Linked DNA regions of Homo sapiens: all the other regions are linked to region 2. Evidence: fine-mapped expression QTL. A gene starts in region 2. Each other region holds a variant in brackets. All regions are shown on one strand. Distances are between the middles of the regions.

Region 1 (2,754 bases), 21 kb after region 2:
TACAAGACACTTGTGAAAATCAGTTTTCTTACATTATAGTCATTGTCACATATGGAAGTTGGTCTTTGATTCCAAAAGTAAAGGGAATATGTTTCTACATTAACAGGAATATGGAGAAATCTGTAACGTTTGAATTATCTTTGAAAGAATGGCTAAATGATAAATGTTAAGTCCTGTGCCTATATGGAGAGGACTCTGTACCAGCATGAGTTAATTTAAGTGGATTCACTGCTATTCAGTTCATAGCACATTAGTGACTAGGAATGTGTGTTCAGCCTCCTGAGAGAGGAGGGGAGGAAGCTTGATACTGGGTGGAAACAACTCTTGACATCTGTTTCCTTGTGTGTCAAAGAACGAATTTGTATCAAATAGATCTGTTTTGAGCTTTGGCCATTATTTGGCTAAGAACTTCAGCCATCTCATCTCAGACAAATTGGACAGCCTCTTTGATACATTTTCTAGTAGTCAAAATGGGGCAGATGTAGTTTAATATGGGTGGAAAACTGCCCCAGCAAGATACCAGGTTATTTACTGTGGTATCGAAAGCTCTAAGAGAATGGAAGTGGTTCTTTTGCCCGGCTGGAAATAGCAGTGGGAAGACAAGTCTATCCAGACCAAGCCTGTCCATACAACACTGGCAATCAGTTGATGAGGGAATTAAGTCAGATGGGAGACGTCTCAATCTGTCGCCCAGGTTGGAGTGCAGTGGTGGCGATCTCAGCTCACTGCAACCTCCACCTCCCAGGTTCAAGCAATTCTCTCTGCCTCAGCCTCTAGAGCAGCTGGGATTACAGGCTCTCGCCACCATGCCCGGTTAATTTTTGTATTTTTTAGTAGAGATGGGGTTTCACCATGTTAGCCAGGCTGATCTTGAACTCGTGACCTCAGGTGATCCGCCTGCCTCAGTCTCCCAAAGTGCTGGGATTACAGGCGTGAGCCACTGTGCCCGGCCTCAGTTGGGATTTGACAGCTCTGAACCTCAGCAGGGGAAGATTGATGTAAAAATCCACTTGGTCAGAGTGATATATGTAGACTTGATGTTTGAGATGGTTCTCAGTTTAGAGAATGTGGGATATGGTAGAGGTCTTTGTTTTTTTCCCATGTCCCAAAAGGTGCTGGGCAAGTAGCTTGAACTCGAGCCTGTTTTAATTATAAAATAGATCAAACTGCTCTTTCTTGGTGCCCTTACTGCTCCTTGATTTTTAGTGCATTTATTTTGAGTATGAATGCATAAAGTCTGAGGGCCTAAATTTTGTTAATTTTTTTTAACAAATGGGAGAGGGGAATCCTCGATAGTCACCCAATTTTCCTTTTTTTTTGAGACAGTCTGACTGTTGCCCAGGCTGGAGTGTAATGGCGCCATCTCGGCTCACTGCAACATCCAGCTCCTGGGTTTCAGCAATTCTCCTGCCTCAGCCTCCTGAGTAGCTGGGATTACAGGCGCCCGCCA[C/T]CACGCCCGGCTAATTTTTGTATTTTTAGTAGAGACAGGATTTTGCCATGTTTGCCAGCCTGGTCTCGAACTCTTGACCTCCTGATCCACCCTCCTCTGCCTCCCAAAGTGCTGGGATTACAGGCGTGAGCCACCGCGCCCAGCCCCATAGTCCCCCAATTTTCTAACAGTTTTAAATTCTGTAACTTCTCCTGTCTGTAAACAAGGCTGTCTTTTCAAATGGCTCTCCTACAGGATGTGATAATTATCTATTCTATAAAGCCGAGGTTTGGAGAGGTAAATAGCTATTTCACATTAACACAATAATGTCAATGCCCTATGGAAAAGATAAAATACTTGGACTATATTTTAAAGGGGAATCTGGGGTCATGCATATTGAAGTTTAACTAGATCCCTCCAGATTTTTGGTTTTGATCCTACACATTTAGATACTAGTTTTGGATTTTAGACAGTTGGTGCTGACAGTGTGAAACTCCTATTGCCTGCAGTTAAATTGAAGCTTTGGTTTCTCGTGAACAGGCAGTGAAGCTGGTATTATACTTTAAGTCCTCATTTCAGAAATAGTTTCCCTCCACCCCCAAGCACTACCACACATGGTCTCCCCACCTGGTTTCAGCTAGTGCATTAGTTTTATCTTGTTTTTTACCGCTGGGCAAACCTTGCTGGAACAACAACTGACTTCATGATTTGCACATTTGGAGGGCTTAACGTCTTTGCAAATGAAAAATCCACTGTACAATAACAAGCTCAAAGGAACTCGGAGCCTTTTTAGAAGAAATCGTGCTGAATTATAATGTGGCTTACTGCAATAATGTTTCTTTGATCAGGATGGAAAGGAAAATACTGAGTTTAGCAGAAAACGATGTCTAAATGTATTTGTAATGATACAATTGTTTATAAATGTTTTACTATTAGGTTGAACCATAAGAAATTGCCAGTGTACAATTTCATCTACAAAATGACTGGCTTAACCTAAATTCTGCATTTTATACTCCAAGAATAAGCTCTTCGTGGCAGCTTTCTAAGTGTGAAATGATGGAACTTTCTATTTGCCAGAATGACCTACACTTCTCTAATAGTTTATCTCATATTGTTAGCCAAACGCTGATTAAAATGCAAATTTCAAACTATTGAGTTTTTAAGAGCCTGATGTTTAAAATACATTTTGGTGAACTTTTAGTTAAACTAGCTCATTTATGTTCACACATTTTCTCATTTAGCACCAGAAAGTTTCTTACAGCTCTTTTGCATGCATTCAGGAGTCAAAAGTATTATATGGGGAGGGGAAATTCCCAAATGATAAA
Region 2 (2,805 bases):
ATGATTTAGTGGAAAGAGCCCTGGAGTGGCACAGAGGGCTGCCTCAATACACACTTACTGAGCGTCTAACAATGAATGGGTCAAGCCCTTCGTAGGCACTGGCAATGGGAAGATGACCAATACAGACGGCTGAACCTTGCTTTCAAGGCCTTCATAAAGCACTGGAGATGACAAACACGGTCCGATACAAAGGGTCGGGTTCAGGACTCCAACCATTATTATCAAAGAGCCACGGGAATACAAAGGAAGGATTACTAGGGGGGAAGTTCCAGGAGGGCATCACAAAGAGACCTCTGAGCTGGATCCAGAAGGACAGATGAGTTTAAGCTGAAAGTGGGGACGGTCGTTCCCGCTGGTGGGAACCGAAGGAGCCGAGGCAGCGCTGAGGCGGAGACCAGGTGGCACCCGCGGCGCTGCAAGGACACACAAGCTGTTGCGAGGGGGTCAACTCTCCGGGCCTTGGCTTAGAAACCTGGGACGATTACACCCTAAAAGCGCTTGGAAAAACTGCAGAACTCGTGCTGATTTTCGCCAAAGCTACTCCCCCGCCGTGAGGGCAGGAAGCCCTGCGAGGCGCCTGCGAGGACGCAAACGCCGCGAAGCAAGTCCTCCACGCCTCCATCCCAGGTTTAGTGAAGTGTAGACTCTGACCCACAGCCTAAAGGAAAGCAAGACCGGAGTCGGGGAGGGCCCCTCCAGGAGCGGGCTCAGCGGGAGTCTGGCCGAACTGCTTGCTGCCACAGTGGTTCCGCGGCCTCGCGCTGAGCGCCATCCGCCGTCTCCCACCGCGGCCCCCACCGCCCCTCCGCAAGGCTCGGCACCTCCCGCCACTTCCTCGGTCGCTGCGGCGGCTCCGGCTCCTCACAGCCGCTAAACCCAGGCCTATTCTGTGTTAGGTCGGGCCTCCTCGGCCCTCTTCGCCGTGACGAATCAGCGCCCGGCTGGGAAAGTATCAAAATTCGGGGAGTTTTGAGGATCCAATGGGTCCTGAAAAAAATCCCTGAGTGTGCTAAGCATCACCGCATCTTCACTAGAAGGTTAGTTTTTCTAAAGAGGGTCGGGTGGGGCCCGGAAAAAAAAAAAAATTAAGAAGAGTGTGGAAAGTGCGAGTGCGGAAGCTCCGGACGCGAGGGGCGGGGCGAGCGCGGGACAAAGGGAAGCGAAGCCGGAGCTGCGGGCGCTTTTTCTGCCCGCGGGTGAGTGTTTCCAAGTGGGACGGACCGGGTCGGTGGGTGCAAGTCGTGGTGTCCCCGCTTGGCTAGACCCCGAGTTCCCGGGGGTTGCTGGGGTTCAGCCTTGGCCGTGGGGCCAGAGCCAGGAGCCGGTTGAGGCCTCCTTGAGGCCTAGCAGAGCGAGGGTTGGGAGGGAGTCCCATCTGGGGCCCCCTCCTTGGAGGCAAGGCCAGTCCCCCGAAATTGGTCAAAGCACCTGTGAATACCCCGTTTTAGGGGAGTTGCTAGTAAAGTACATTCTCCAAGACAAAGAGAGCGACCTCAGGAAGCCGTGGGCAAGGCAGGTCCGTGGTTCACCCCCCACCCGGGCAGAAGGTTCCCCCATTGGTTCAGGCAGCGACTTGAGGACGAGCAGAGCTCTGAAATAGTTTGGCCTGGGTTTGAAACCCAACTTTGGCACTTCCTGGCTGCATATGGCTTCAGACAAGTTGTTTAAACTTTCCGAGACTCCCTTGTTTCATCTGTAAAATGGGGATAGCTGTACATATAAAGTACTTGTGAGTGTTAAGCGAAATAGTGTCATAAGCGTACCCCGTATAAAGTATTTCTTGAACAAATATTTATCGGGTATTTATTTTTATGCCAGGCACCAAAGATGGATCCAACGGTGGACAAATGTACAAGCCCACTCTTAAATTTTGTATTCTAGCAAAAGAGAGCAATAATTTTAAAGTATTAACAATGAAGTATAACGTACAGGGAGCTTATGTTAGTTGTCAGGGTCCCCTGCAGCGAGGCCTGCTGGATGTTGACAGCTCCCTTAATGTGAGCAGAAAGGAAATCTACACCAGAGTCAAAGGTTTCTGGCTGTTCTTTAAGAGGGAAAGACTCAGGTTGGACCATTGAGAAAATGAGCTGTTTCTTTCCACACCAGGACTCATTCCTTATGCTCCAGGGAATTTCCTTAAAATTAATAATAGAAGCGAAAAATCAGATCTATTCCACATGTTTGGTTGCAAATACCTCCAATAGTCATAGAAGTTTATTTGCCTTCTTTCCAAAGATGAATTTTTGTCTTTTTGTACCTCACTATTTGTGATGTATGTTGATGTAAAGAACAAGCTCACATGTGCCTGGTTATGTTGTGAGCTGGTAATACTAGGAAAAAATTTCCTAAGAATTGAGCTAGGTCCTGACATGGTCCCTCTTTCCAAGTAGCATACAATCTAGCCATATTGATAAGTTAAAAAAAAGTTATAATAATATAGATCTGTGTAAACTGTATAGGAATACAGATGGGGGAGCAGTTAATTCTGCCCAGGTAATGTATCAAGAAAGTTCCCTTGAGGAGAAAAATTTTGAAATGGGCTGTGAATGATGAATAAAAGTTTTTCAGGTAGACTCTCAAAATTTATTCCCAGCATTTATGAAGCTATTTACCATTATAAGAGAATGTGAAGTTCATTGTCATACCAATTACCTTTTGCACTGCTTCCAGGAATAAAATGCTGCCTAATTTTAATAAAAATTGTTATCCCAAAAGCATGATACAGTTGCTGATCAGGGAGCTGTCAGTATCTGGTAGGCCTTGTTGCGTTGGACCCTGATAATACATCACTTTCTATTCTCATCC
Region 3 (2,664 bases), 38 kb after region 2:
TCACTGCCACATTCCTCTTCTTCCACTTGCACAGTAGGGCAAATGAAACCTAAGTCCATGCTGGCTATATAAACACAACTTGAAAGGCTCAGTTGTTGAAATTAACAGGAATAAGCATTTTTTCCCTATTGAATCACCTATTGGATCATTCAAAATTCACAGTGGGGCCAGGCACAGTGGCTCATGCCTGTAATCTCAGCATTTAAGGAGGCCAAGGCTGGAGATCACTTGAGCCCAGGAGTTTGAGATAAGCCTGGGCAAAATAGTGAGACCCTATCTCTACAAAAAAAAAAAAAAAAAAAGGATTAGCTGGGCATGGTGGTGAGAGCCTATATTCCCAGCTACTTGGGAGGCTGAGGTGGGAGGATCGCTTGAGCCCAGGAGGTCGAGGCTGCAGTGAGCCGAGATTGCACCACTGCACTCCAGCTGGGGACTTGTGCTCTCTCCCTGCTCTCTCTGCCTCTTCTCTCCCCTAGAAGCCCTCCTGGTCCAACCTGAACTTCTCCTTTAGATCCTTCAGTCTTCAGTGTGAAACAAGGTGAGTCTTTATCACTAAATCCCTTTCTCTTTGTTTTGTTTTACCAATGATTTTTCCTCATCTGGGATAAAGGGTGGGGAAGGAAAGAGGGGAGTGAGGGAAGTGAGTGATGGGAAAAGCAATAATCACTCATCACTAACAGTCACTCATTAAAAAGCAGCATCTCAATTAAAACTATGAAACTATGTTCATCGAGTTCAGTCTCACCCTGCAGAGTCAAATTTTGACTTTCAGTTGCCCCCATCAGGTCTAGTTGAGACTGATTAGTCAGACATAAATCATGGAGCTGGCTCATTCTCAGGACCCTTCAGGACTTCTCAGAAGCAGCAGCACTCTCATGTCCACAGTCTATTTCCCTGACCACCCCCAACACACACAAAAAATTACATCTTCTTATAAGTGTAATCGACCTGATTCTGAGAACTGTTCTCATTGGTTGCAGTTTGCTGAAGTGTAACCAACTACTGTGCCCTTGGAGCTCACATCATTCCCTTCCATGAGGCTGCTACTTCTCCATCCCAGTCTTGGCTAATCAAAACCCCACTCTCCACTGGTTAAACACATTCAATACACCCTTATCATGGACCATGAGGCAGGCATTAAAAGTGATGTTGTGGTAGAAAATTTAATAGTTCATGACATATTTATACTATAAAAATAGTTTACCAAACAACAGGTGTTATAAGTATAAACCCATTTTAAACTGTTTTTTTCATGGACAGATATGGTCATCTCTAAAGGGTTTTTATTTTCCCTCTTGTGCTTTTCAACATTTCACAACATTTTACAATGAGTACTTTTGGGTGTTTTTATGTTTTATTTTTTGAGACAGACAGGGTCTCACTCTGTTGTCCAGTCTGGAGTGCAGTGGCACGATTACAGCTCACTGTAGCCTCAACCTTCTGGGTTGCTCAAGCAATCCTCCCACATCAGTCTCCCAAGTAGCTGAGACCACAGGCATGCACTACTATGCCTGGTTAATTTATGTATTAATTTTTGTACAGACTGGGTCTTCCTATGTTGCCCAAGCTGGTCTCA[A/G]ATTCCTGGGCTCAAGCAATCCTCCTGCCTCTGCCTCCCAAAATGTTGGGATTACAGGCATGAACCACTGCACCTGGCCACAGTGAGTAGTTTTGTAATGGAACAAATGTGAAAAGAAAACATCCTATCTGTTACAGGCTTCATTGTGTCTCCCCACTCAAATTCATACATTGAATTCCTAACCCCCAGTACCTCATAATGGGACTGTATTTGGAGACAAGGCCTTCCTGGAGATAAAGAACACCAGTCATATTGGATTGGGGCCCATGGATATGACCTCATTTTACCTTAATGAAGTCAATGGTGGGCTCTCATCCAATATGACTGGCATCCTTATAGGAAGAGGAGATCGGGGCCGGGTGTGGTGGCTCATGCCTGTAATCCCAGCACTTTGGGAGGCCAAGGTGGGTGGATCACCTGAGGTCAGGAGTTTGAGACCAGCCTGGCCAACAGGGTGAAACCCCATCTCTACTAAAAATACAAAAAATTAGCGGGGCGTGGTGGCACATGCCTGAAATCCCAGCTACTAGGGAGGCTGAGGCAGGAGAATCGCTTGAACCCAGGAGGCAGAGGTTGCAGTGAGCCAAGATCTCGCCATTGCACTCCAGCCTGGATGATAGAACAAGACTCGATCTTGGGGAAAAAAAAAAAAAAGGAAGAGGAGATCAGGACCCAGACAACACAGACCACCACATGAGGACATAGCAAGAAGGTGGCCATCTGCAAGCCACAGAGAGTGTCCTCAGAAGAAACCAGAAGAAACAATGCTGGAAACCCCTTGATCTTGGACTTCTGGCCTCTAGAACTATAAGAAAATAAATGTCTGTTGTTTAAGCCACTGAGTCTGTGGTATTGTTTACAGCAACCCTAGGAAACTAAGATACCACCCATCTTTCAAAGACCAGCTCCAATGCCAGGCCTGCCACGAAACCGCCCATTCCCAAACTTCCCCTCCACCCAGGCTTTTGTGGCTATGGCTTTTGTGTCATTTGGCCTTGTTTAGAGTAACCTTTGCTCACCCTTCTCCCCTGCTAAGCTTCCTAAGAGTGAGGTCTGGGTCTCATTTGTCTTTTTTAATTCCACCACTG

Alleles and levels. Positions count from the first base shown, and alleles are read on the strand shown. Sizes are in standard deviations (SD) of each study's normalised expression. Not every link is listed here.
In carriers of allele A in region 3, the expression in hypothalamus of the gene that starts at base 1,151 in region 2 tends to be lower than with G alone (moderate effect, 0.52 SD a copy in GTEx).

What was found. PIP is the estimated chance that this variant, and not a neighbour inherited with it, causes the effect.
Region 1: its variant is fine-mapped to the expression of SMARCE1 in whole blood (TOPMed, PIP above 0.99). The same link has a PIP of 0.9 or more in blood mononuclear cells and monocytes.
Region 3: its variant is fine-mapped to the expression of SMARCE1 in hypothalamus (GTEx, PIP 0.99).

The regions. Positions count from the first base shown.
Region 1 is chr17:40,624,788-40,627,541 of GRCh38, reverse strand. It overlaps SMARCE1 (SWI/SNF related BAF chromatin remodeling complex subunit E1), which reads left to right. Exons shown (of 11, transcript NM_003079.5): 11 at 1-2,580. Among named protein-coding and RNA genes, the nearest start is that of SMARCE1, 22 kb to the left of the region's middle. The variant C/T (reference allele first, on the strand shown) is at 1,451.
Region 2 is chr17:40,646,164-40,648,968 of GRCh38, reverse strand. SMARCE1 (SWI/SNF related BAF chromatin remodeling complex subunit E1) reads left to right here and starts at 1,151. Exons shown (of 11, transcript NM_003079.5): 1 at 1,151-1,196. RefSeq lists a silencer at 618-912.
Region 3 is chr17:40,608,681-40,611,344 of GRCh38, reverse strand. No RefSeq gene overlaps it. Among named protein-coding and RNA genes, the nearest start is that of SMARCE1, 38 kb to the left of the region's middle. The variant A/G (reference allele first, on the strand shown) is at 1,577.